4 linked regions of the Homo sapiens genome follow. The protein of the gene in region 2 interacts with the protein of the main gene of each other region in a pairwise test. Each region holds a gene or a part of one and is shown on either strand. Other genes may lie near its edges.

What was found.
Region 1: the proteins of TRIM14 (region 2) and CCDC125 interact in binary tests that used the Homo sapiens proteins (3 or more experiments, as listed by UniProt).
Region 3: the proteins of TRIM14 (region 2) and RAD51D interact in binary tests that used the Homo sapiens proteins (3 or more experiments, as listed by UniProt).
Region 4: the proteins of TRIM14 (region 2) and SLF2 interact in binary tests that used the Homo sapiens proteins (3 or more experiments, as listed by UniProt).

Annotation. Positions count from the first base shown.
Region 1 is NC_000005.10:69,280,780-69,287,815, forward strand, and holds part of CCDC125 (coiled-coil domain-containing protein 125), read right to left. Parts: intron 4,689-7,036; coding exon 4,558-4,688; intron 2,256-4,557; coding exon 1,950-2,255; 3' UTR 360-1,949; coding exon of another isoform or gene 328-359; 3' UTR 1-327. UniProt on the Homo sapiens protein: May be involved in the regulation of cell migration.
Region 2 is NC_000009.12:98,109,212-98,116,247, reverse strand, and holds part of TRIM14 (tripartite motif-containing protein 14), read left to right. Parts: intron 1-4,550; exon of another isoform or gene 4,551-6,122; coding exon of another isoform or gene 6,123-6,179; intron 6,180-6,263; coding exon 6,264-6,359; intron 6,360-7,036.
Region 3 is NC_000017.11:35,091,698-35,095,873, reverse strand, and holds the end of RAD51D (DNA repair protein RAD51 homolog 4), read left to right. Parts: 3' UTR 1-3,653; downstream 3,654-4,176. UniProt on the Homo sapiens protein: Involved in the homologous recombination repair (HRR) pathway of double-stranded DNA breaks arising during DNA replication or induced by DNA-damaging agents. Bind to single-stranded DNA (ssDNA) and has DNA-dependent ATPase activity.
Region 4 is NC_000010.11:100,957,945-100,964,980, forward strand, and holds part of SLF2 (SMC5-SMC6 complex localization factor protein 2), read left to right. Parts: intron 1-1,483; coding exon 1,484-1,552; coding exon of another isoform or gene 1,553-1,627; exon of another isoform or gene 1,628-1,644; intron 1,645-3,932; coding exon 3,933-3,968; 3' UTR 3,969-7,036. UniProt on the Homo sapiens protein: Plays a role in the DNA damage response (DDR) pathway by regulating postreplication repair of UV-damaged DNA and genomic stability maintenance.

The sequences.
Region 1 (7,036 bases), on a different chromosome or scaffold from region 2:
AATTTAGATAAACTTTTGTATTGATAGCCTTTTCTTTTGGAGATGGGGGTCTCACTCTGTCACTCAGGCTGGAGTGCAGTGGCACAATCACAGCTCACTGCAGCCTCAAGCTCCTGGGCTCATGCCATCCTCCTGCCTCAGCCCCTGAGTAGCTGGGACAACAGGTGCATGCCACCATGCCTTGCCGAGTTTTTGTATAGATGGGGTTTCACCATGTTGCCCAGGCTGGTCTTGAACTCTGGACTGGTCTGGACTTGAGATTCAGACCAGATCTGTAAGCCACTGCACCCGGCCTTGATAGCCATTTGTTTTCATACACAGCAGCAATTAGTAGCCATTTAAGATATCTGTGCGCCAGCCTACAAGAAATACAAATGTACAGGGTAAAATCCTAGCTGGATCAAATATGAGCTTTGTAAATTTTTAAAAACTTTTTTATTGAGTTGTGGTTTATGCCTGTAATCCCAGCACTTTGAGAGGCTGAGGCAGGAGGATCCCTTGAGGCCAGGAGTTTGGCACCAGCCTGAGCAACACAGTGGGACCCTGTCTACACACACACCCCACCCCCACACACCCCAATTCACATACCACAAACAAAAAAACTCCTAGAAATCACCTTGGCTCAGGCAGCTTCTTCAGATTCCTGAGACCCCATTTCCTGGATCATCACAACCATCTCACAGGATGCAATGAAAAGAGCTGTTAAGCACTTTGTAGACTTGGCTACAAATCTGTGCAGATTTGGTTGCAAAATGTTACTACCCTGACAAGAAGCCATGAACGCAGCCGGCACTGACTCAATATACTTCTGCCAAGGTCCCACCATCAAAACTGTCTTATTGAAGTTAACTTAAGGAAATTGTTATTTCTAAACTTCATATGGTAAATGAAAAATACTGAACAAGGCAAATAAAACAAGATAAATGAATTCCAGAAATTAACATTCAGTCAGTCCTAGGTATTGTTACTTTTTAGAGCATTAAGATACATTGCTATATTGTTGATTTAGCCAAGCTAAGATCCCTATAGTCAATCAAAATAGTTAAATAATTTTTTGTTTTTCCCAAAAATCATTATTTTTTGTTTTAGGATGTTGGCAAACACTGTAATGTGTTTTTTTTTTTTTTTGAGACAGAGTTTCGCTCTTGTCGCCCAGGCTGGAGTGCAATGACACAGTCTCGGCTTACCACAACCCCCGCCTCCCAGGTTCAAGCGATTCTCCTACCTCAGCCTCCCAAGTAGCTGGGATTACAGGCATGCGCCACTAGGCCTAGCTAATTTTTTGTATTTTTAGTAGAGATGGGGTTTCTCCATGTTGGTCAGACTGGTCTTGAACTCCAGCCTCAGGTGACCCACCCACCTTGGCCTCCCAAAGTGCTGGGATTTATAAGCATGAGCCACCATGCCCAGCCTGTAATGTAATTTATAAATACAGTAATGTAATTTATAAATAAAATGTCAACACAGAATACTAATTTCTTGTAGAAAATGTAGAAAATAGGCTGGGTGTGGTGGCTCACGCCTGTAATCCCAGCACTTTCGGAGGCCAAGGCAGGCGGATCACTTGAGGTCAGGAGTTCAAGATCAGCCTGGCTAACATGGTAAAACCCCGTCTCTACTAAAAATACAAAAATTAGCTGGGCGTGGTGGCACATGCCTGTAATCCGAGTTACTCGGGAGGCTGAGGCAGGAGAATTGCTTGAACCGGGAGGCGGAGGTTGCAGTGAACCGAGATCACACCACTGCACTCCAACCTGGGTGACAGAGCAAGACTCCATCTCAAAAGAAGAAAAAGAAAATGTAGAAAATATTTGATTTAAGTGACCTCCTAAAATTTAGAAATACCTAGGAAACATACAACTTCTCAAGATGCAGCAAAATTTACAAAATCATTTTTCAAAGTATCTCGATATAAACAACTCTCAGTTCCAATTTCAACTGGCTTGTCTTTAAAATATGATACTTGATGGCAAAGAATGGGATCTTTTAAGAGTTCTATAGTTTGGATCTATTTGAGAGTGCTGGATTGAACAAATGCAGCCCACAGAATTTAAAATGCAGACACTTGAATGTATAGGATCACCCAAAACAGAGAATTCTGAAGTCTTACGCCAGGGGTTGTTGAAAGGGAAATTCTCTTTTATAGGATTTTTTTCTTTATTCTCGTTTGAAGCAGTGTCTTTGTCTTCCAATGCCCGAGCAAGCATGTAGCTAACTTTTCTTTGATGAGCCAAAGCTTCTTCTTTATCATTAAGCTGCATGCACAGAAATTAAACATGTACAAGTTAGTCAATAAATCACAGAATATATTCAGAGAAAGGAGTATTGTACTATTTTATCAAGTTATTCAACCCTAATATTCATACTGATCTGTCCATCAGTATGAATAAATTAGGTATCACCTGATCCCCAAACATTATACTACATGTTATTCATGAATCTTTTTTTTTTTTTTTTTGAGACGGAGTCTGGCTCTGTCACCCAGGCTGGAGTGCAGTGGCACTATCTCCACTCACTGCAAGCTCTGCCTCCCAGGTTCACACTATTCTCCTGCCTCAGCCTCCCAAGTAGCTGGGACCACAGGTGCCCGCCACCACACCCAGCTAATTTTTTGCATTTTTTAGTAGAGACGGGGTTTCACTGTGTTTGCCAGGATGGTCTGAATCTCCTGACCTTGTGATCAGCCCACCTTGGCCTCCCAAAGTGCTGGGATTACAGGCGTGAGCCACCGTGCCCGGCCAATTCTTTTTTTTTTTAAGACAGGGTCTGGCTCTGTTGCCCAGGCTGGAATGCAGTGATGCCATCTTGGCTCACTGCAGCCTCTGCCTCCCAGGCTCAAGTGATTCTTGGGCCTCACCCTCCCGAGTAGAGTAGCTGGGACTATAGGCGTGCACCACCACACCTTGCTAATTTTTGTAGGCTGGTCTCGAACTCCTGGCCTCAAGTGATCCACTCGCCTCGGCCTCCCAAAGTGCTGGAATTACAGATGTGTGCCACCATGCCAGGCTGACAATTTTTTTTTTTTTTTGAGACAGAGTCTCGCTCTGTCACCCAGGTTGGAGTGCAGTTGCATGATCTTGGCTCACTGCAAGCTCCGCTCTCCTGGGTTCACACCATTCTCCTGTCTCAGCCTCCCATGTAGCTAGGGACTACAGGTGCCAGCCACCACACCTGGCTAATTTTTTGTATTTTTAGTAGAGACAGTTTCACCGTGTTAGTCAGGATGGTCTCGATCTCCTGACCTCATGATCCACCCGCCTCGGCTTCCCAAAGTGCTGGGATTACAGGCATGAGCCACTGTGCCCAGCCCCGACGATTATTTTTTAAAAATAATTTTTTAAAAAAAAAAACAGAAGACAGCATTGAAAATTTTGCAAGTCATCTGGAAATGAAGGGAAAATATAGATCTATATGAAGTGTGTATATATAGGTATATAATATCAACATATAAAAAATATATCAACGTGCATATTTATAAAATAATGTTGAAGTTATTTGTATATAAAATTGCTTTCATATATTTGTATGCAAATATATAACAGTCTAGAGATAAGTATGTTCATATAACCTGAGTCTCAGTGTCTTAGTTTAGTCATTCCATGTGGAATGTGGGTAGCAGGACTGTAAAGGATATAATGTGTGAGGAAATGCCTTGAACACTTTAAAAATGCCTCAATAAACAGGCAGACTTGTCACAAACTGTATATATATAAATGTAGATGGCAAAGCTGGCTGGAGTTAACTACAGGAGCCCCCTGTTTTCCAAGATGGAGCCTTTAAACCTGCACAGAAAGAATATGAATGACGAGAAAAGATGAGCTGAGGGAGATAAAGATCATGAAGGTAGAGTCTGGTACTCCAACTGGGAAAAGGACATAGAAGGCAAGTGCAAGTCTAGAGAGATAAAGAGTTGAATTAACAGGAAGCAAATAGATTAGCTTAACCTAGGGGTGTCCAATCTTTTGGCTTCCCTGGGCCACACTGGAAGAAGAAGAATTGTCTTGGGCCACACATAAAATACACTAACACTGGCTGGGCATGGTGGGTCACGCCTGTAATCCCAGCACTTTGGGATGCCGAGGTGGGCAGATCACTTGAGGTCAGGAGTTTGAGACCAGCCTGGCCAACATGGTGAAATCCTGTCTCTACTAAAAACGCACACACAAAATTAGCCAGGCGTGGTGGTGGGCGCCTGCAGTCCCAGCTACTCTAGAGGCTGAGGCAGGAGAATTGCTTGAACCCGGGAGGTGGAGGTTGCAGTGAGCCGAGATCGCGCCGCTGCACTCCAGCCTGGGTGACAGAGACTCTGTCTCAAAAACCAAACAAACAAAAAAACCAAAAAACAAACAAAACAAAAAAATACACTAACACTAATGATAGCTGATGAACTAAAAAAATATATATATATATCAAAAAGATCTCATAATGTTTTAAGAAAGTTTACGAATTTGTGTTGGGCCACATTCAAAGCTGTTCTGGGCTGCATGCTCCCCACGGACCGTGGGTTGGACAAGCTTGGCTTAACCATAACCTGCAAAAAAAAGCAAAGACACTAACCAAATCTATGAGCATCTTAAGGACCTCTTGAGGACTGTCCTGGTCTTCCATCCTCTTAGAACTGTTTTCTGAAGGGAGCATACCCAACAGTCTCTGCCCGAAGGTCTTCTTACTCCTTGGTGATGGAAATCCTAAAATTGAACATGAGAATCCAGCTGAGACATTAAAATATCCTCACTGATATACTTCCAGCAAAAGAGGTAACTTGATCTCTAGGACAAGTGAGTCCAGGAGCACACAGTGGAATGTAGTGAGCAGAGCACAGCCTTCAGAGCCAGGAGCAATGCAGGTGAGAGGCAGCAAGAGTGCCGCCCTGCCATGCGGCACAGCCACCCCTCTGTGCCAGCTGACACACAGGCCACACAAGAACACAGTCCATGTCACTGGATCATCACAGTCTTCAAGAGCAGCCAGAAATGCAGATCTGTCATGACATCTTCCAATTCTAAATGTCAGCCACTAGTCTTATTGTTTGACTACACTAAGCCAACCTAACAAAACATGTCTGCAGGCCACAGGGGGCCTCTGAGCCATGCAAACTCTGCTTCCGAACAGCAAAGACCTGGACTTGAATCCTCATTCAGCCACTTACTAACTGTATGACCTCGGGTGACTTTTCTCAGCTTGATTTCCTCATCTCTAAAATGAGAATAGCATTACCTTCTTCTCAGGGAACTGTGCCATTAAATAATAAATCACACGGGCTGGAGAAGGGGAAGTGAGGAGTTACTGTTTCATGGGACAGGGTCTCTGTAAAGAAAGATGAAAATGTTCTGGAGCTGGATGGTGATGAAGGTTACATTACAATGTGAATATACTTAATACCACTTAAAAACAGTTCAAATGGTAAACTATATATATATATATATATATATATATATATATATATATATATATAATTTTTTTTTTTTTTTAGATGGAGTCTTGTTCTGTCACCCAGGCTGGAGTGCAGTGGCGCAATCTCGGCTCACTGCAAGCTCCGCCTCCCGGGTTCGCGCCATTCTCCTGCCTCAGCCTCCCGAGTAGCTGGGACTACAGGCGCCCGCCACCACGTCCGGCTAATTTTTTTGTATTTTTAGTAGAGATGGGGTTTCACTGTGTTAGCCAGGATGGTCTCGATCTCCTGACCTCATGATTCGCCCCCTCTTGGCCTCCCAAAATGCTGGGATTACAGGCGTGAGCCACCGCGCCCGGCCAACTTTAGATATATTTTACCACCATCACGACAACAACAAAAAATACCACAATTGTCAAAGGCCCTGCTCAGGTATTAGCATAATATTTAATATTTCACGTGCTGACATCATTGATGTCCTTCTTCATCCATTGAAGGAAAGTAATTTGCAGAAGTTATAAAATCTCAGATTGTACAAGGAAAATTTCAAGAATGTTTTTGGAATATTCTCCAAAAGTGGTTTAGTGGGAAACTGAGAGCAGATGAGGGGAGATCCCCTTCCCACCAATCCTGACAGACCACAGTGACGAGGGCGGCCCTGACCCCTTCCACGAGGAGCTGTGGCAAACAGAAGTCAGAGAAACTGACACTTTGATGAGTAGATGAATCTGTGTCCCTATTTTCAGTCTAAAAAAAGAAATAGCTTGGTGTGATGGCTCAAGCTGGTAGTCTGGAGGATTGCTTAAGCCCAGGAGTTTAAGATAAAAAAAAAAAAAAAAAAACCCAAAAGCAAAAATACAAAGAAAGAAAGAAGTATGCCTATAAACTACTTCCGGAAACTTGTCTAAACTGCCATATCAAAAAGAAAGTTGATATTAAGTGTTACTAAACATAAAATAATCTGTATCACCCTGTACCTCTTAAGATTACTGAAATATACTAATAAAATGAATTAAAGTCTTGTCACTGAGAAACTGAGAAAGAACTACTCAAACTTGTATAGATTTATAAAAGCTGTGCGAGATTAATCAATTTTTTTTTTTTTTTTTGAGATGGAGTCTCGCTTTTGTCGCCCAGGCTGGAGTGCAACAGCGCAATCTTGGCTCACCACAACCTCTGCCTCCCGGGTTCAAACATTTCTCCTGCCTCAGCCTCCCGAGTAGCTGGGATTACAGGCTTGTGCCACCACACCCAGCCAATTTTGTATTTTTAGTAGAGACAGGGTTTCTCCATGTTGGTCAGGCTGGTCTCAAATTCCCGACCTCAAGTGATCCACCCACCTCAGCCTCCCAAAGTCCTGAGATTACAGGCGTGCCACTGCACCCGGCCATCAGTTTTTGGTGGTTTTTTTTTTTTGAGACAGGGTCTTGCTCCATCACCCAGGCTGGACTGCAGTGGTGGGATCATGACTCACTGCAGCCTCAGCCTCCCAGGCTCAAGCGATCCTCCCACTTCAGCCTCCCTAGTAGCTGAGACCACAGGTATCTACCACCACACTTGGCTATTTTTTTTTTTTTAATAGAGACAGGGTCTCCCTATGTTGCCCAGCCTGGTCTCAAACTCCTGAGCTCAAGCAATCCTCCT
Region 2 (7,036 bases):
TCACTGCAGCCTCCACCTCCCAGGTTCAAGTGATTCTCCCACTTCAGCTTCCTGAGTAGCTGGAACTACAGGTGTGCACCACCACTCCTGGCTAATTTTTGTATTTGTTGGTAGAGATGTGGCTTCACCATGTTGGCCAGGGTGGTCTTGAAAACTCCGACCTCAAGTGAACTGCCCACCTCAGTGTCCCAAAGTGCTGGGCCCCCTTTTATTGTATTTTATTTTATTCTTGTTAACATTTTTTAATAGAGGCGGGGTCTCACTATGTTGCCCAGGCTGGTTTCAAACTCCTGGACTCAAGTGATCCACCTACCTCAGCCTCCCAAAGTGCTGGGATTACAGACCTGAGCCACCAAGCCTGGCCCCCAAGGGTCTTCTTATGGGCTCTGTAAACTTGACTTCAGTTCCTGAAAGCAGTCTGATCATATATGAAGATATATCATTTCAGTCAAAGCCTTGGTAAAATTACCAGTGTCTCCAATGTGGTCTGTTATGAAAGAAAACATACTCTTATTGAACTTATGCAAATAACTATATTGTCATAAAATAAGAATACTCACAAATAGCCAGGTGCGGTGGCTCACGCCTGTAAACCCAGCACTTTGGGAGGCTGTGGTGGGCGGATCAGTTGAGGTCAGGAGTTGGAGATCAGCCTGGCCAACATGGTGAAACCCCATCTTTACTAAAAATACAAAAATTGTGCTGGGCTCAGTGGCTCACGCCTGTAATCCTAGCACTTTGGGAGGCCAAAGTGGGTGGATCACGAGGTCAGAAGTTCGAGACCAGTATGACCAACATGGTGAAACCTATCTCTACTAAGAATGCAAAAATTAGCTGGGCATGGTGGTGGGCACCTGTAATCCCAGCTACTCGGGAGGCTGAGGCAGGAGAACTGCTTGAACCCCACGAGGCAGAGGTTGCAGTGAGCCAAGATTGTGCCACTGCACTCCAGCCTGGGCAACAGAGAAAGACTCCACCTCAGAAAGAAAAATTAGCCAAGCGTGGTGGCATGTACCTGTAGTCCCAGCTACTCAGGAGGCTGAGGCAGGAAAATCGCTTGAACCTAGGAGGCAGAGGTTGCAGTGAGCCGAGATCATGCCACTGCACTCCAGCCTGGGTGACAGAGCAAGACTCTGTCTAAAAAAAAAAAATTAATTTAAAAATGAAAATAAAAAAAGTAAACACAAATAGTTTGCAAATTTTGGTGAAATCAGGTAGAGAGAAAGACAAATGTTTCAATTTTGCTCACAAAAGTATCTTTTATCCAGTTGCTGTGACAAAAGAAAAAATTTTCTTGACTGAAAAACAATATAAAAAGAATCAGCAATGTTTCAAATTTTAAAAATCATAAAAATCACTTTTATCCTCTATCAGTTTAGTCCCATGTAAATAATTCTTGCTCTGCTTGATGTTGGGTTAGCAGTCTTCATGAATGCCTCAGGTTTTTATTAGAGTTCTGGAAGCTTTTGCTTAATCCAATGGTAAGATCTCTGAAGTTACCAGAAACCTGTATTCAAGAGTACTTGTCAGGGTTTTTTTCCAAAAATTTCCTTAAAGATGAAGCAAATTTTGTAGCTGATTATAAACGACTTTTTTTAAAAGAATCAAAGTAAAATAAAAATTGTCGGCTGGGTGCGGTGGCTCACGCCTGTAATCCCAGCACTTTGGGAGGCTGAGGCGGGCCGATCACGAGGTCAGGAGATCGAGACCATGGTGAAACCCTGTCTCTACTAAAAATACAAAAAAATTAGCCAGGCGTGGTGGCGGGCACCTGTAGTCCCAGCTACTTGGGAGGCTGAGGCAGGAGAATGGCATGAACCCGGGAGGTGGAGCTTGCAGTGAGCCGAGATTACGCCACTGCACTCCAGCCTGGGCGACAGAATGAGACTCTGTCTCAAAAAAAAAACAAATTGTCTGTGGATGATAAAAGGCTTAGAATAGCCACGGTCAAAGATGAAATTGACTAGGATATGTGGTTATTTGTGTGGCACACACCAGTTTATCATAATAATTATGATAATGATATACTGATAACATATACCAAGACATATCAGACTTTTAGGAATCTCATACAATTTTGGAACACATTAATAATACGCTTTTATAAATATAACTCAAAGAAAGTTAAACATCATTTCTTATTTGACAATATTTCCCATATGACTTTGACATCCCAAATAAGCCTAATGTGTCTCTTTTGGACTTCCAGGGGTCCTGGTTATGCCCAAGTTAGCTTGGGTCAAAAAGACTTAATTTAATTTTGGGAAGTATCTCAAATATTAAAGGTTTAAAACACTTGATATAGAAATAAGAAAGGTTTAAAACACATGATCAAAATAGAATCACAGGTCACTACAAAATAATGGTAATTACTTTAGCCAAAATGATTATTCAAAGATTTCAAAAAGCAAAAACCACTCTGATAGAGGAGATTCAGTTCTCAATCAAGAGACCTAATAAAGACAGCATGGGACAAACTCTCCCCAGTTACCTTTTCTTTGCCATTTATGCAAAAGTAAATACATCTTTTACCGTCTCTTATTAATTCTACATTACATTTTTATTCAAAGGAGAAAAACAAGTTTTACTTTTAGGCCAGGCACAGTGGCTCATGCCTGTAATCCTAGCCCTTTGGGAGGCCAAGGCAGGCAGATCACTTGAGCTCAGGAGTTCAAAACCAGCCTGAGCAACATGGTGAAACCCTGTCTCTACAAAAGATACAAAAATTAGCTGCGTGTGGTGGTGTGTGCCTATAGTCCCAGCTACTTGGGGGGCTGAGGCAGGAGGATTGCTTGAGCCTGGGAGGTCAAGGCTGCAGTGAGCCAAGATTGCACCACTGAACTTCATCTTGGGTGACAAAGTGAGACCCTGTCTCAAAAAAAGAAAAAAATTACTTAGGTGTTAGTATATTATCTATCATCCAATTTCAGTCAGCTTTGACTACACAAGATAAGATAATCGATAATCTCTCACCATTTTCTATTAAAGAGCAGATCAATGCTCTGATAAAACCTGGTTGTTCCAACACAGGAGCCCAGACTCTGGCCTTACATGAGTGTGCTTTTGATATTAATACTTAAGTTTTAGAAAAACTTATAAAAAATTCCTTCTTTTTTTTTTTTTTTTTTTTTTTTGAGATGGAGTTTCGCTCTTGTTGCCCAGGCTGGAGTGCAGTGGCATGAACTGCCTCACTGCAACCTCCACCTCCCAGGTACAAGCAATTTTCCTGCCTTAGCCTCCCGAGTAGCTAGGACTACAGGTGCACAACACCATGCCCAGTTAATTTTTATATTTTTAGTAGAGACGGGGTTTCACCATGTTAGCCAGGCTGGTCTCAAATTCCTGACCTCAGGTGATCCACCTGTCTCGGCCTCCTAAAGTGGTGGGATTACAGCCATGAACCACCGCGCCTGGCCATTTCCTTCTGATTTTTTTTTTTTTTTTTTTTTTGAGATTGAGTCTTGCTCTGTCACTCAGGCTGGAGTGCAATGGCGCAATCTCTGCTCACTGCAACCTCCACCTCCCAGATTCAAGTGATCTCCTGCCTCAGCCTCCTGAGTAGCTGTGATTACAGGCGTGCACCACCACACCTGGCTAATTTTTGTATTTTTAGTAGAGACGGGGTTTCTCCATGTTGGTCAGGCTGGTCTCAAACTCCTGACTTCGTGATCTGCCTGCCTCGGCCTCCCAAAGTTCTGGGATTACAGGCAGGAGCCACCACACCCTGCCATTTCCTTCTCATTTTAACCAATTTGATCACATACAAAATGTCTTTTGTGAGATTAATCTTCCACAGACCTTCTAGAATTTGCTTAAATCTTCAGTTTTGTCCTATACTTCCTTTTTATTTTGGCATTCTACCTTAGGACAAAAATTTACTTCCCTTTTCCCATTATCATTTTGACTACACAAAGTTCTCTCTCATGCAAAAGAAAAATTACTCTCTTTCAACAGTCTTTACCAAAAACACATCTGACTTTATACACTCTGTAAATAGAACTGTTTCTTTTATATCAAGTAGTTTTAATCACATATGTTAACTACAATTTTCACTCTTAGTAACCCAAATTTCCAGTGAAAAACCTAGGAAGTAAGTAATTTTTAGCTGTTTTCTACCAGCATTTGTAGATGAAAATAATTTCATAATTTCTAGAAAGATGGCTCCTCAATTTTTTTTTGTTAACAGATCGAAATATATTTAGCTTTTCTATACCATATAAATGATTCAGACGTTTTATAATGACCTATTACTTCATTTAACATAACATGATATTAAGTTACTGAAAACAATTTTTGTTTGTTTGTTTTTGAGACGGAGTTTCACTCTTGTTGCCCTGGTTGGAGTGCAATGGTGTGATCTTGGCTCACTGCAACCTCTGCCTCCTGGGTTCAAGTGATTCTCCTGCCTCAGCCTCCCGAGTAGCTGGGATTACAGGCATGCGCCACCATGCCTGGCTAATTTTGTATTTGTAGTAGAGACGGGGTTTCTCCACGTTGGTCAGGCTGTCTCGAACCCCTGACCTCAGGTTATCTGCCTGCCTTGGCCTCCCAAAGTGCTGGGATTACAGGCGTTAGCCACCGTGTCCAGCCTGAAAACAACTTTTAAAACTATGAAATGTTCATTTATAAACTTTGATCTCATTTACATTTATTTAATTTTTTCATTCTTAACAATTTTGCCTGAATAGTTCATTAAACAAAGCTAGCCACCATCAATTTATTTCTTTGCTAATCATTTCTATAGCCTGTGAATGTCATCCTCCCAAGCAGCTGGAACTTGAGGCATTCTCCACCATGCCCAGCCAGGTTTTTTGTTTTGTTTTGTTTGTTGTTTTTTGGTAAAAATGGGGTCTAGCTATGTTGCTCAGGCTGGTCTCAAACTCCTGGCCTTAAGTGATCCTCCCACCTCAGCCTCCTGAGTAGCTGGGATTACAGGTGCAAGCCACCATGCTCAGCTCTTGAATTTCATTACGTAAGGTTGACACTATGAATATTCATTTTGCATCCACATACCCACTTTCCTATCCATTCACCCATTATTCATTCATCCATCCATCATTCACCAAACATCTATTCAGCATATATTTTGGGCCATGAGTCAAAGAACAGATCAGATCCTTCCCTGACCTGGAAGAGTTCTCTGGCTGGTTGGGAAAGAAGCTAGCAGCACCTGATAATTGTTTTTTTTTGGGGGGGGGGACAGGGTCTCACTCTGTTGCCCAGGCTGGAGTGCAGTGGCATAGTGGCATGATCATGGCTCACTGCAACCTCCTGGGCTTAGGTGACCCGCCCCTGACCTCAGCCTCCCAAGTAGTTAGGACTACAGGTGCATGCCACCATGCCCAGCTAATTTTATTTTATTTTATTTTATTTTATTTTATTTTATTTTATTTTATTTTTTGTGGTAGAGGCAGAGTCTCACTATGTTGCCCAGGCTGGTCTCGAACTCCTTGGGCTCAAGTGATCCTCCTACCTCAGCCTCCCAAAGTGTTGGGATTACAGACATGAGCCACCATGCCTGACCAGCCCCTGATAATTCTGTTCAATTCAGCAAACACTTCTGGTCACACCCTGCTCCCTGTGGGGAGTGAGAACGAAGCGAGCCTGCCCTCAAGAAGCTCCTAGTCAATGGGGCAGCCAGATCTGGGCCCAGCAGCTGAGTGTAAGGCCAGCTGTAAGAAAGGCTAAGATGGAGACGAGATCACACCCTTGGGGAAGGAGAGTGCAGAGCAGACTTTGGGGAAAAAAGCAATTTCAAAAAGCAGAGATATGGAAGGTGGGAAGAGCAGGAAGCATGAACCCCACTGACCTCTCACGTAGTCCAGGGCCAGAGGGTCACAGACTCCCTGGAATGTATGTTTCATGAGGGCAGCACCTGGAACAGGGCCCAGCACATAATAGGTGCTCAGTTAATACTCCATAAGTAGATGTTCTTTCCCAGACCCCAAGCTGTTTGCCTTAAAGTCCCACTTGAAAGGCTGGAAAAGCAAGTCACAGGCAAGACTTGTCCTAGATAAAGTAAAGTGTGAGGAAGGGGTGCAAATCAAGATTAGAGGCATACCTGATGTGGACCTCCGAGGATCAGAGATGTCCTAGTCCCAGCTCATCCACCAACTTGCCATATGACTTTGGGCAAGTTACCTCACCTTCAGATGCCTCCATTGGAAAAGAATACAAGGGTAAGAGGAGGTGACCCCTGTGGGGGGCCTGTTATTTGGAAAGTGACAGTATTACGACTTTTTTCCTAACTCCCTCCTGTACAGAAACTCAGCCAAGAATGTTTAAAGCAGCTGGCAATCAAGAAGCAGCAGCACATTGACAACATAACCCAGATAGAAGATGCCACCGAGAAGCTCAAGGCAAGTGGACATTTCTTCCTCATACCCATGGAAAGACCCACATTTCCCCCCAGACAAAAGGGACCCCCAATATGGAGCCAATGAAAATAAAAACCAACTGCGAAGGGGCAGATGGTGGGGCCTGGAGCTTCTATAATTCAGGGTTCTTTAGAAAAAGAACACAAAATTACAGACAAAATTAGGTGCAAGACCATGAAGGGGCTCTGCAAGTGAGGGGCCCTGAGCTCCGGTTTCCTTTGCTTTGTGGCAAATCTCTGGTTCCTTAGTGTCATCTGCCAGTCTCTTGGAGGAATTAGCCCATTATCCCAAATTGCCTTAAACAAAGCAAAACACAGCTTAAGGAATATGCAGATATCTCTTTAATTCCACTGCCATGCTGAAAGAAAGCAAGTAGGGTAAGATCTGTTCCACAAATAGGTACTTTCTTCACTCTCCTTTCATAATGATGTTTGAGTGGATTCTCTGTGGATTTTGAATGGGAACTTGAGGCTGATGTTATTCTAAGTAACCATTTTGACATGACAAAGTTGTTGTGTTTTTAGGGCCTCAGGGGCTGGTCATTTCCCCTTGCATCCTCCGTTGCTCCCTCCCCCTTTCATCCTGTTGCTCCCTCCCCCTTTCATCCTCTGTTGCTCCCTCCTCCCCTTCATCCTCTGTTGCTCCCTCCTCGCAGTGAG
Region 3 (4,176 bases), on a different chromosome or scaffold from region 2:
CAGTTAGTTTGCATACTAAGGCTGCAGTTTGTTAAGGGCCCAAGTAAAGCCTCCTCAGGTCAATTTTTTTTTTCTTTTTGAGATGGAGTCTTGCTCTTGCTCAGGCTGGAGTGCAGTGGCGTGATCTCAGCTCACTGCACCTCTGCCTCCCGGGTTCAAGTGATTCTCCTGCCTCAGCCTCCTGAGTAGCTGGGACTACGACTACAGGCGCCTGCCACTATGTCCGGCTAATTTTTTGTATTTTTAGTAGAGATGGGGTTTCATCATGTTGGCCATGGCTGGTCTCGAACTCCTGACCTCAGATGATCTGCCTGCCTCAGCCTCCCAAAGAACTGGGATTATAGGCATGACCCACTGTGACTAGCCCTCAGGCCAAATTTAGCTTTTGTTTGTTTGTTTGAGACGGAGTCTCTGTCACCTAGGCTGGAGTGCAGTGGCATGATCTTGGCTCACTGCAACCTCTGCTTCCTGGGTTCAAGCAATTCTGCCGCAGCCTCCCGAGTAGCTGGGATTACAAGCATGCGCCCCCATCCCCGGCTCTTTTTGTATTTTTAGTAGAGATGGGGTTTCACCATGTTGGCCAGACTGGTCTCAAACTCCTGACCTCAGGTGATTCACCTGCCTCTGCCTCCCAAAGTGCCTGGATTACAGGCGTGAGACACCACACCCGACCCCAAATTTAATTTAACAAAGGACTAACTCAGAACTAACTTCCAACCAAAGCTGACTCACCTCAAATCTCATTGGTGCAGAATTGCTTCATACACCCATGTGTAATACAGTAACTGGCAAGAAAAAGGGACTGCTGTGATTGACTCAAACCAACTAGGAAATAGCCCTGGAGCTGAGGCTGGGGACAGGCTTTCCTGAAGCACATGCTGGAGCCACTGAAAGAAAAATGGGAGTTCTCCTTTCTACTAGAAAGGAGAGTGTGTGGATGAACTGGATGCTGGGTGGGCAGCCTCTCACTAGTACTTACGGTAGTACCAAAGACGAGTTAATCAAGGCTCTATTATGTATCCTTAGGCCCTTGATGCATGTCTCATTATGACCTTAGGACAGCCTTGTGGCAGAGGGAATGATTCCATTTAATAGACAGTAAATGGGATCTCAGTGAGGTTAAGGACATAAAGCTAATAAGTGGCAGCACGGGAATCCAGACACATGTCTGCCTGATACCAAACCCATTTTTTCCCATCTGCACGCTGCCTTCTGCTGTAAATATGTAAATGTTTCCACAAAATTCTTTTTCATACTTTGCCCTGATAGCAGCAGGGGCTGCACATCCCAACCTCTTTTCAGCTTAGCTCACCATAAAAAGCGGGATCAGAGATCTACTTCTCAGCTCTTTCTGATTTCCCCCAGGGAAGTTACAAAAGAATGACAAAAACTTGGAGAAGGCAGATATCATTAGTATTAAAGAGAACTGGAGGTTTAGGGGGAAATAAAGCTGAATAAAAAACAGCAGGGCTGGCTGAGCGTGGTGGCTCACGCCTGTCATCTCAGCGCTCTGGGAGGCTGAGGTGGGTGGATCATTTGAAATCAGAAGTTCGAGACCAGCTTGGCCAACATGGCGAAACCCCATTTCTACTAAAAATACAAAAATTAGCCGGGCGTGGTGGCGGGTGCCTGTAGTTCCAGCTACTCAGAAGGCTGAGGCAGGAGAATCGCTTGAACCCGGGTGGTGGAAGTTGCAGTGAGCCAAGATCACACTACTGCACTCCAGTCTGGGTGACGGAACAAGACTCCATCTCAAAAAAACAAAACAAAACAGGGCCTATGCATCCCTGAGATGTGAAGCAGGGGGAGATAAGGGATTTAGATGTATATCCTACTAGGTTTTTGCTGTGTTCTGCCATGCAGTTGTCTGGGCAGGATTTATTTATATTTTAATTTATTTCAGGGGCCATGCTAATCATCTTTGTATTGTTCCAATTTTAGTGTATGTGCTGCTGAAGCAAGCACTGGGTAAGGTTTAAACTGTCTAGTTCTGTGTGCTGGGGTTTGGCATTGGAGAAGGCTCTGTGATGCATAGACCTTAAATTAGAGTTAGGTATATTATTAATCCAAAGTGATCCTGAATGCTTTCTATCATTTTTTTCTTGTCCTATTGCACTGGCTAAACTGACTTTTAGTACTACACAGAATAGAAGCAACAATAACAATCATCCTTGTCTTGTTCCTAACTTTAGTGGACTATTTACAATATTTTACTGAGTTAGATGCCTTAGGTTCCACGTAGCTGCTCTTTATGAAAGACCTCACTGGGTTACCCTTCAGTCTTGGAGGAGTCTGGGTATTGGCCATGACATTTGCCATGAATGATGGAGTTCTCTCTGCCAGGTCCTCATGCCCTGGAGCTGTACGGCTGCACTTCAGCTGCTGCACATTTGACTTTTTGAGTAGCCCTTGAATCTCTGCTCTTCCTTGGCCTCTCTATAGTTTTTGGTATAATAGCCTCAGCTTAAGTTTGAGTTTTGTAGGAAAACAATGGGCCTGTGCTGACAAAGATACAAAGTCAAGGAACAGGATTTTTTATATCTCAACTAACTTGGTCCTAGCTTTGACATTTACTTGCCATATAACAATGGATGAATAACAGTCTCTTTAAGCCTTAGTTTCATCCACCGTGAAATGGGAAAAATAATATCTGTTTCATAGAGTTGTTTTAGGATCATGTAACTTATGTAAAACACTGAATAGTTTTCCAGGCATGATATAGGCACTCAATCTCATATTATGAATAAGCTTATGATGCATGGGGGATACTGATGACAGCTTTCTTCTGTCCAGGCAGGCCCAGCTACATGGTGGTATGACCAGTGCAGTCACACAGCCCCATGCTTAGCAGGGCTCTGCACTTAGTTTAATGCTCTGCTGTTGCCATCTTGAAGTTCTTAATTTTTAAACAAGCATCCCATATTTTGCACTGTTTCTTGCAAACAGTGTAGCCAGTTCTGTCTCCAGGAATGGATCCAGCACTAGTACTGGCCCTTCTCTTTGGGAAACATCCTTCCATTGATTTCTTAGGGAGTAAATCCCTTGAAGAGTAACCTCCCATAGAAAAATTAGGGTTAGCACCCTGTGTATGTTTATCTCTAACTGTTCCATTCTCAGTAACCTACACATCCTCTCTCATTAAAAAAACAAAACAAAACAAAAAACACTTTATATTTTACAGAAGCTATTAGATCCAGAGAGGTTGGTAGGGGTGCTGGTGAAATGGAATGGTGATTTGGGATTTTGGAATCAGGAAAAAGATCTAAGTTCAAAACCCTGCTAGTCCCTTTCTGGCCGAGTTACTTGGACAAGGTAATGTCTCTGTCCTACTGGTAAAGTGTATGTTGCAGGGGAATTACATTCTTTGTTGGTAAAATATATGCCTCAGGGGAATTAAACAGATAATTTATGTAAAGTGCCTTTCACAGAGAGTCTGGCACATAGTAGGTGGTCGGTCACTATTAATTCTTCCAGCTCTTGCCAGAAATAACTAAAATCAGGGCACTAGGACTTCCAAGCCGTGCTGCTACTAATAAAAGAAATAATATGATTTATTTTTTCACAACTGTTTGGGGAAAGGCCTGTGCTTCATAAATATGCGTTGGAAAGTACTTAGCAAATGAGTAGAAATAATAAAAATATGTCCAAGTAAACAGCTCCTATAAATATGTCACTTGGTAGACAAATTAGTGTTTTATCACTACTAAATACTATTGCTCGCTGAAAAGGATTTCGGATTGCTTGCACAATGGGTACATTATTGAATGCCTCTGTGGAAGGGCATGATAAAGATGAAAAATAGTGACGGTGGTAATGCCTAAGGTGGAGAAAGGAGGAGCGTGGATAAACGCAGCTCGGAGGCCTCTGTGCTGCAGTGATATGCACATTATTTAGCAGCATTCCAATGATTTGCTTGTAATATGGACCAGAGGGCCCAGAAAAAAATGATTTCCACAGGATGTCATGAATCCAAACTTCAATTATTGGATCCAATCAGTGGATTAAGTGCACCCCCTTTCAGAACTGAACCTTCAGGTTGTAAACTAAGTTTATGAAAGGACATCCCCAGGTCTCACCCCACCCTTGTTCTGGACCTATTAACTTTTTTTCTGTTTGTTTGTTTTTTGTTTTGAGATGGAGCCTTGCTCTGTCACCCAGGCTGGAGTGCAGTGGCAC
Region 4 (7,036 bases), on a different chromosome or scaffold from region 2:
AGGCTGAGGAAGGAGAATCCCTTGAACCCAGGAGGCAGAGCTTGCAGTGAGCTGAGATCTCGACACTGCACTCCAGCCTGGGCGACAGAGCAAGACTCTGTCTCAAAAAATAATAATAATAAATAAAACAAAATAAAATAAACATACTTTTTTCTAAAGATTTTTTTATTCCAAGATTATCTTTTAGCTTTGATAATGTAATACAATGCTGATTCTTTTTGCCTCTTGTCTTTGGATAGTCATTGAATGTGAAGCCTCAGCTTTGTAACTTAATATCTTACATTAATTAGCTGCAAAGGTTAGTCATTTGAACAATGCCCATTCAGATTTAACATATGTATTTATTTTAGTAAATTTAAGTTAAATACAAAAATAAGCAACTAATGAAGTTATCAGATTTCTGATTTTCAAATACATGTAGGGGATAGCTCTTTCCCCAAGAGTAGAACTCTAGTTTCAGAAGCACATTCTTTTGAGCATTCATTGACCAGAATTGCTGGCCTGTAGAACTTGGTAGTGGCTACTACTGACAGCCATGCTAAAAGGGGACCACCCAAGTTTTATGTTTCTTAAAGACAAGGGCTTGGCACAGATTGTTGCCAGTGCTTCTCTTACTTAAAGTGGAAAGCGACACAGTGGTCTGTGGAAATTGCTTCAAGGGATGGTCCTGCTGAAATAGATGAGTTGCCTGCCTCTCCAAAAGCCTCTATTATAGAAAAGTTGGTGATTGTTTTGGAGAAATTTGAACTGTAGATGAAGAAAAAAGCATAGATTGTAGTTTACTTTATAAATTTAAAGCTGCTATAAAATTCCTGACTTGTTGAAAACATGTTTCTCAAGCAGTTATGTTCAATAGCTAATTGAGAATCTCTAGAGTGATAGAGTTTGGGTTTTGTGTTACAGTTTCAGTTGTGCACAGACACTTGCTAAACCTCCAAATGTAGGAAAATACGAGGTATTTAAAGGGGATTCGTAGTACTTGGGCACAAGCATGGAGAGGAGTAACAGTGAATTTTGGATCTTCTAATAATGTGGAGAGGGACAAATAAACGTTTTTTTTATGGCTTTGATCCTTTCAAAGGGAAGCTGGGAAGGGAAGGCACAGAACAGCCAAAGCCTTGGGCCCTGTTGACACAGACCACCCTTCAGCTTCTCTATCTGGTTGTTCAAAAGCCAGCGAGTTAAAGTTAAGTTCCTTTGAAGGCAGAGAATGTGTTTTTGGGGATGATCTTCAATAACAGGAAAATTAAATCATAAGCATTCAATAGTTTAGATTATGATGATAAAGGGAGTCTTATTAATTTCTATGATTTGAAATCTCCTTCAAAAGATGAGTAGTTTATTTTCTCTTTGTTGACAGAAATCAAATTGAGTTGTTGAGTGTGGGCCTGTTGCAGCTGTCAGATATTTTGTGTAGTGTTAAGCTGATTGTAGGTGAGAATGTTTTAATCTGATCCCTTTTCCTGTTTTTGATATTTTTAAGGTGAAAGACTTGGTCGCCAGGATACATGGAAAATGGCAGGAAATAATCCAGAACTGTCGGCCTACTCAGGTGTCATTTTGTTATACAATTTCATGTATTCTTAATAGTTTTGCTGAATGGCACTCTTCATACTGTTTGAAATAAAATAGGGTATAACAGTGCACTTGCTTCTAGTTATCTTAAGATAAACTGAAAACGCCAGTATAATACATGGTTTGTAATTTTTTTAGTTTTCGTTTGCTTTATATTCATTAATTTATTTCCAGAAGTGGTTGAGCCCATTTAAAAATATTGCATTGCATCAAATGGAGGTTATTCAATTAAGAGCATTTTTAAGACAGATCTATTGAGATAGAATTCACATACCATAGATTTTACCCACTTAACGTGTACAGTGGTTTTTATTACATTGACAGAGTGAATAACATCACCATAGTCTAATTTTAGAACATTTTCATCACCCCAAAAAGAAATCCCATACCCATTAGCAGTCATTCATTCCCCTTTCCTCTACTACCTTGGTTCCCCTCCTGACTCCTCCCAAATCCTAGGCAAACACTAATCTACTTTCTGTCCCTATACATTTCCCTATTCTGGACATCGGTAAATGAGATATACTATGTAATCTTTTGTAATTGGCTGTTTTCAGTTAATATAATAATAAGTGAATCCATGTTATAGCATGTACATCCCTTCTATTGCCAAATAATTTTCCACTGTATGGATATGTCACATTTATTTATCTACTTATCAGACATTTGTATTGTTTTCACATTCTGGCTATTACAAATAATATTTCCATGAACATTTGTATGCAAGTTTTTATGTGAATATGTGTTCTCAAATGAAACATTTGAAAAGGAAGTCAAATTGCTGGGCCATATGGTAATTCTATGTTAAGTGTTTTAAGAAACTACCAGACTGTTTTCCAAAGTGACTGCATCATTTTATATTCCCACCAGAATGTCTGAGGTTTCTAATTTCTCCATATTCTCACCAACACTTGTTTTTACTAAAGCCATAGTAGGGAGTAGGGAAGTAGAATCTCATTGTGGTTTTAGTTTGCATTTCCCTAATGATTAATGGTGTTAAACATCTTCTCATATGCCTATTGGTCATTTGTATAGCTTTTTTGCAGAAATGTCTATTCAGATCCTTTGCCCATTTTTTTCATCCCATACTTCATTTCAAAAAGCCTATTTTTGAATATAGTTATTTGTCTTTTTATTATTGAGTTGTATGTTCTGGATACAAATCCCTTATTAGAGATATAATTTGTAAATATTTTCTTCCATTCTGTGTGTTGCCTTTCCTTTATTTTTATTTATTATGTATATATTTTTGACACTTTTTTTTGATGTTATATCTAAGGAGTCTTTGCCTAAGAGGGACATTTTTTTTAACACCTGCTAGTAAGTGTGCCAGCCTGCTTGTTTACAGAGTAACTGGCATAGGATTGTCTAAAATGACGCTTCTCAAATTTTAATGTACATAGGAATCAACTAGGAACTTGGTGAAATATGGATTCTGACTCATAGGTCTGGAGTGAGAACTGAGATATTCTGTACTTCTTTTTTTTTTTTTTTTTTTTTTTTTTTTTGAGACGGAGTCTTGCTCTGTCACCCAGCCTGGAGTGCAGTGGTGCAATCTCGGCTCACTGCAAGCTCTGCCTCCTGGGTTCACGCCATTCTCCTGCCTCAGCCTCCTCAGTAGCTGGGATTACAGGCGCCTGCCACCACACCTGGCTAATTTTTTTGTATTTTTTAGTAGAGACAGGTTTCACCGTGTTAGCCAGGATGGTCTGGATCTCCTGACCTCGTGATCCGCCCGCCTCGGCCTGCCAGAGTGCTGGGATTACAGGCATGAGCCACCGCGCCTGGCTGATATTCTGTAGTTCTAGCAAGTTATCAGATTGATGCCAATGCTGCTGCTTCAGGGACTAAACTTTGAGTAGCCAGGGCCTAGAAGTTGCTTATATTTTATATCAAAATAATAGGAACACTGAATGTTAAGTAGATAAAGCAATCTCTCTATTTTAAGTCTTTGAGAAATCTTATATTTATGTTTTGTTGTTTTTGTATTTGTTTCTAACCTTAATAGATTTTCTTTTAATGCTGGTCATGTACTGATGTGGTATTAAAACAGAAAATAATTTAATAGCAAAACTATACTAATCAGCTTAACATTATTTAATCTGCTTAACTAAGCCCCTCCATGTGTGCAGTGGTGAGAAAAACATCCTGCACTTATTTTTTACTGTTTTTTGTTGTTTGACTACTGAATGTGAAATTTGAATCTGATTACCATAAATTTTCAGAGAAGTCAATATAAAGATTTTATTACTTGTCTTATCAAAGCCCATTGTCTGATGATTAGTAGTTTTATAAGGATTAATTCATAATATGATTAAATTTTGCTTTACCCTCTTTTTTCTCCTTCCCTTTTTTAGGGGCAGCTTCATGACTTCTGGGTACCAGATTCTTAATAGGAGTTGCAGCAGCAAAAATATGAACCAAGAGAAATTCAATAAGAGCCTTTCATAGAGGAGTAGAAAGGATTATTACAGAATCCAATGAATGCCAAGAAAATGTACAGCAAATGTGCCACTTGAATATCTAGTATGAAGCTGGTAATGAAGAAATTGCCATTTCTGAAGCAGATATGAAATATGATCTGCTTAATTGTTAAGGCAACTGACCTTTCAAAAGTGCAGAGTCTTATTAAAAGAGGGGAGGGGTAGAAGCAGAATAATAGTCATATGTCTAACCTGCCCCAGTTAACTCCTCTTGTTAAATTATAAGCCAGTTATCTTTTTTAGATAGTATTTTTGTCACTTGGATAATCACAGGAAATATATAAGAAAAGAGCTTGGACTAACTTGAGAAGTTGGACATGGAAAGCAAGACCAAGTTCCAGTTGGGTTTAATTTTCCCTCTTGGTTATTTTCGGACACAAAGGGAATGCTTAAAACTGAGTTTAGTAATAAAAAGCATAAATCTCTTCTGTAACTTTTATAAACCACAGGGAGGTTTCAATCCATGCATTTTCCTTCATTACTCAAGATTATAAATCTGTTTTTAAAATACATCTAAACAAACAGTTGAGAAACAAAAGTTTGGCATGTTGTCAGATCCCCTTAAGAGGAAGAGGTTAAGCTGTAAAGTAGTGGCCCTGTTTTGATGCCAGAACATTCATATGCTGTTTGTTCTGGATTTCTTTTAAATGCATGTATTTTAAATACTGGTTAAATCTTAGAATCTTGGCTATATCTTAGAATTCTGGCTCTTGGTAACCATATTACAGAAGTCTATATTGTAAAAGCCTAAAGATCTGGACAAGTTTCCAACAACCTTGTTTCCATGAGTATATAATTTTGGCAGACACCTGAATTCTTTGGGACACTGTGTCTGTGTATGTGTGTGTGTGTGTGTGTGTGTGTGTGCGCTTGTATCTTGAAGTTGTTGCACTTCAAAACCACAGCTGCTGTAAATTCTTAAACACTGGAGAGCCATCCTTTGGTTTAAATGGTAGAGGGTTAGTGGAAGTGCACACGTTGTTTTTAGCCCAGGGGTAGTAACAAACTCTTACTAGCCAACTAGAAAATTATTTTGTTGACGAGATGTCCCTTTTAGGAGGGTTTGTTTCCTGAAAGAATGCCAACTTTTTTTGTTGTTCTTTCAGTATTGGCTTGAGTGACCTGTTCTCCTGAGTGCTCTAGTGTCTCCAGTTGTGGGGGGGAAAGATGATGGAGGGGAACAGAAACTGGACTTGATGTTTGCGGTTTGAGAGGCAAGAAAATAAAATAACTTTCTACCTCTAAATTGAGGCTTAGGAGTAAAAAGCATTTTGTCCTAAATTTATCATTTAAAATAGCATCAGTAACTTTTGAGCTCATGTCAATCAAGCATTGGCAGTCAGAGATTTTATAGGGAAGACTAAGTAAATCCAGTTTCCAAGAACCTAAACTGATTGAGGCTCCAAGAGTCAGACCAACAAAAGTTTTATTCTGTGTTGTTTACTGGTAAGAATATTATTATCTTGATACTACCTCTCAAGGGTATTGTTACAAAATGCCACTTATGGTTAAAGAGATAGATACAAAGAGTTCTATTTGACAGAAGCTTGAAACTCTGGCATCTATCTGCCCAACGATGGGGGCTTTCGTTCTGTAATTTAATCCTTTGTAGATACATTATTTGTGTGTAATTTTATACGTGTTCATATTTTTCTCATTTTGCATTGTGTAAAGTGTACAAAATCTCAAAGTATAAAATACTGCTTATATTGCTTGTAATTTACAGTGTGTAAATATTTTCTAATTGTGTACATTGATGGGGGGGACAAGTGGGTTATTCAGGTTTTTTTTTAATGACCCTTTTGTATTGCAGTTTCAACAGATAACTGTCCATCAAATTTAAAACCACTTTGATACATTTTTATTTAACAGTTCCAATAAGAAAAAAATCTCTATTTTTAATTATATTTCTCCTTTAGAAAAAAAATACTTCATGGTCCCTCTAAAATAAATGGCCAGACCTCAGTTTAGGCCCTTGTATTTATGACTCTGGTAGAGGTCTTCAGACTCCAGGTCATAGTCCAGTCAGTATTTGCATTTGGGTTCTCATGAAAACTTTGTGACTCTCTTTTAGCACAAGTAGCCCATGGTTTTTCTTCCAAATCAAGTATTTTACTTCTCCCTTGAGTCCCCATGCTTTGTCTCCCTCCTGCTGCTATTGCCCGGTGAATGGGATGGTAGAGAGGGAGAAATGTTCATTGCACAGAGAATGTCAGGCCACTTTGGGGACTTGGCAAACGAAGCTTGCACTGAGTGGTGGTGTGTTTGGCAATATTACTGTGCCAAAAATCACCTTGTCTAATTTTATGGATATGTATGGCAAACTTATTACCCTTCTTGCAAGCTGCACATTAAGGTACTTGTAAGTGTTTATGCTTTTGTGTGTAACTGTTTGCCTTTTCTAACTGCTTTTCTTGTTACTGAAAATATAATTCTACTAGTTTTATCACATTAAGAGGCTCTCCATGCACAAAATGCATTGATGTAGCCGTAAAGTAACAGCATTTGTACATTTTCTATCTCCTGATGGCAGTGGTGCCTTTGTCACCTTTTGGAAGGTTTGCATTTTGTTTCTGCTTTCAAGCGCAAATAGTAGCTTGCTTTCAGCTTCACAAAAATCTCCTCAAATGTAAAAGATACAAAATGGCGTGTTATCATCCAGGCTTAGTTGGAGTATTTGCATTTTTATTTTTATCAAAACAAATATAATTGGTGGGGACTGGCCAGTAATAATGTGTGGCGTCTTTAAGCCAAGAGTAATTTTTAAATTAAAAATGAAAATTTTAAGAGGTAGCCCATTAAACAAGCTACTGAGTTGGAGAATTAGGGGATGACTGTGGTGGTTTGTCGCTAAGGAGGCAACAGTAGGGTCCAGGCGGCGGGGCACGTAGAGCAGTTAGCATGATCCATGGTTATTCCTTACTCATGAACAGTGTCGGCGCACCTCATTATCTGTGCATTTGTTTTTCCTGGGCAGT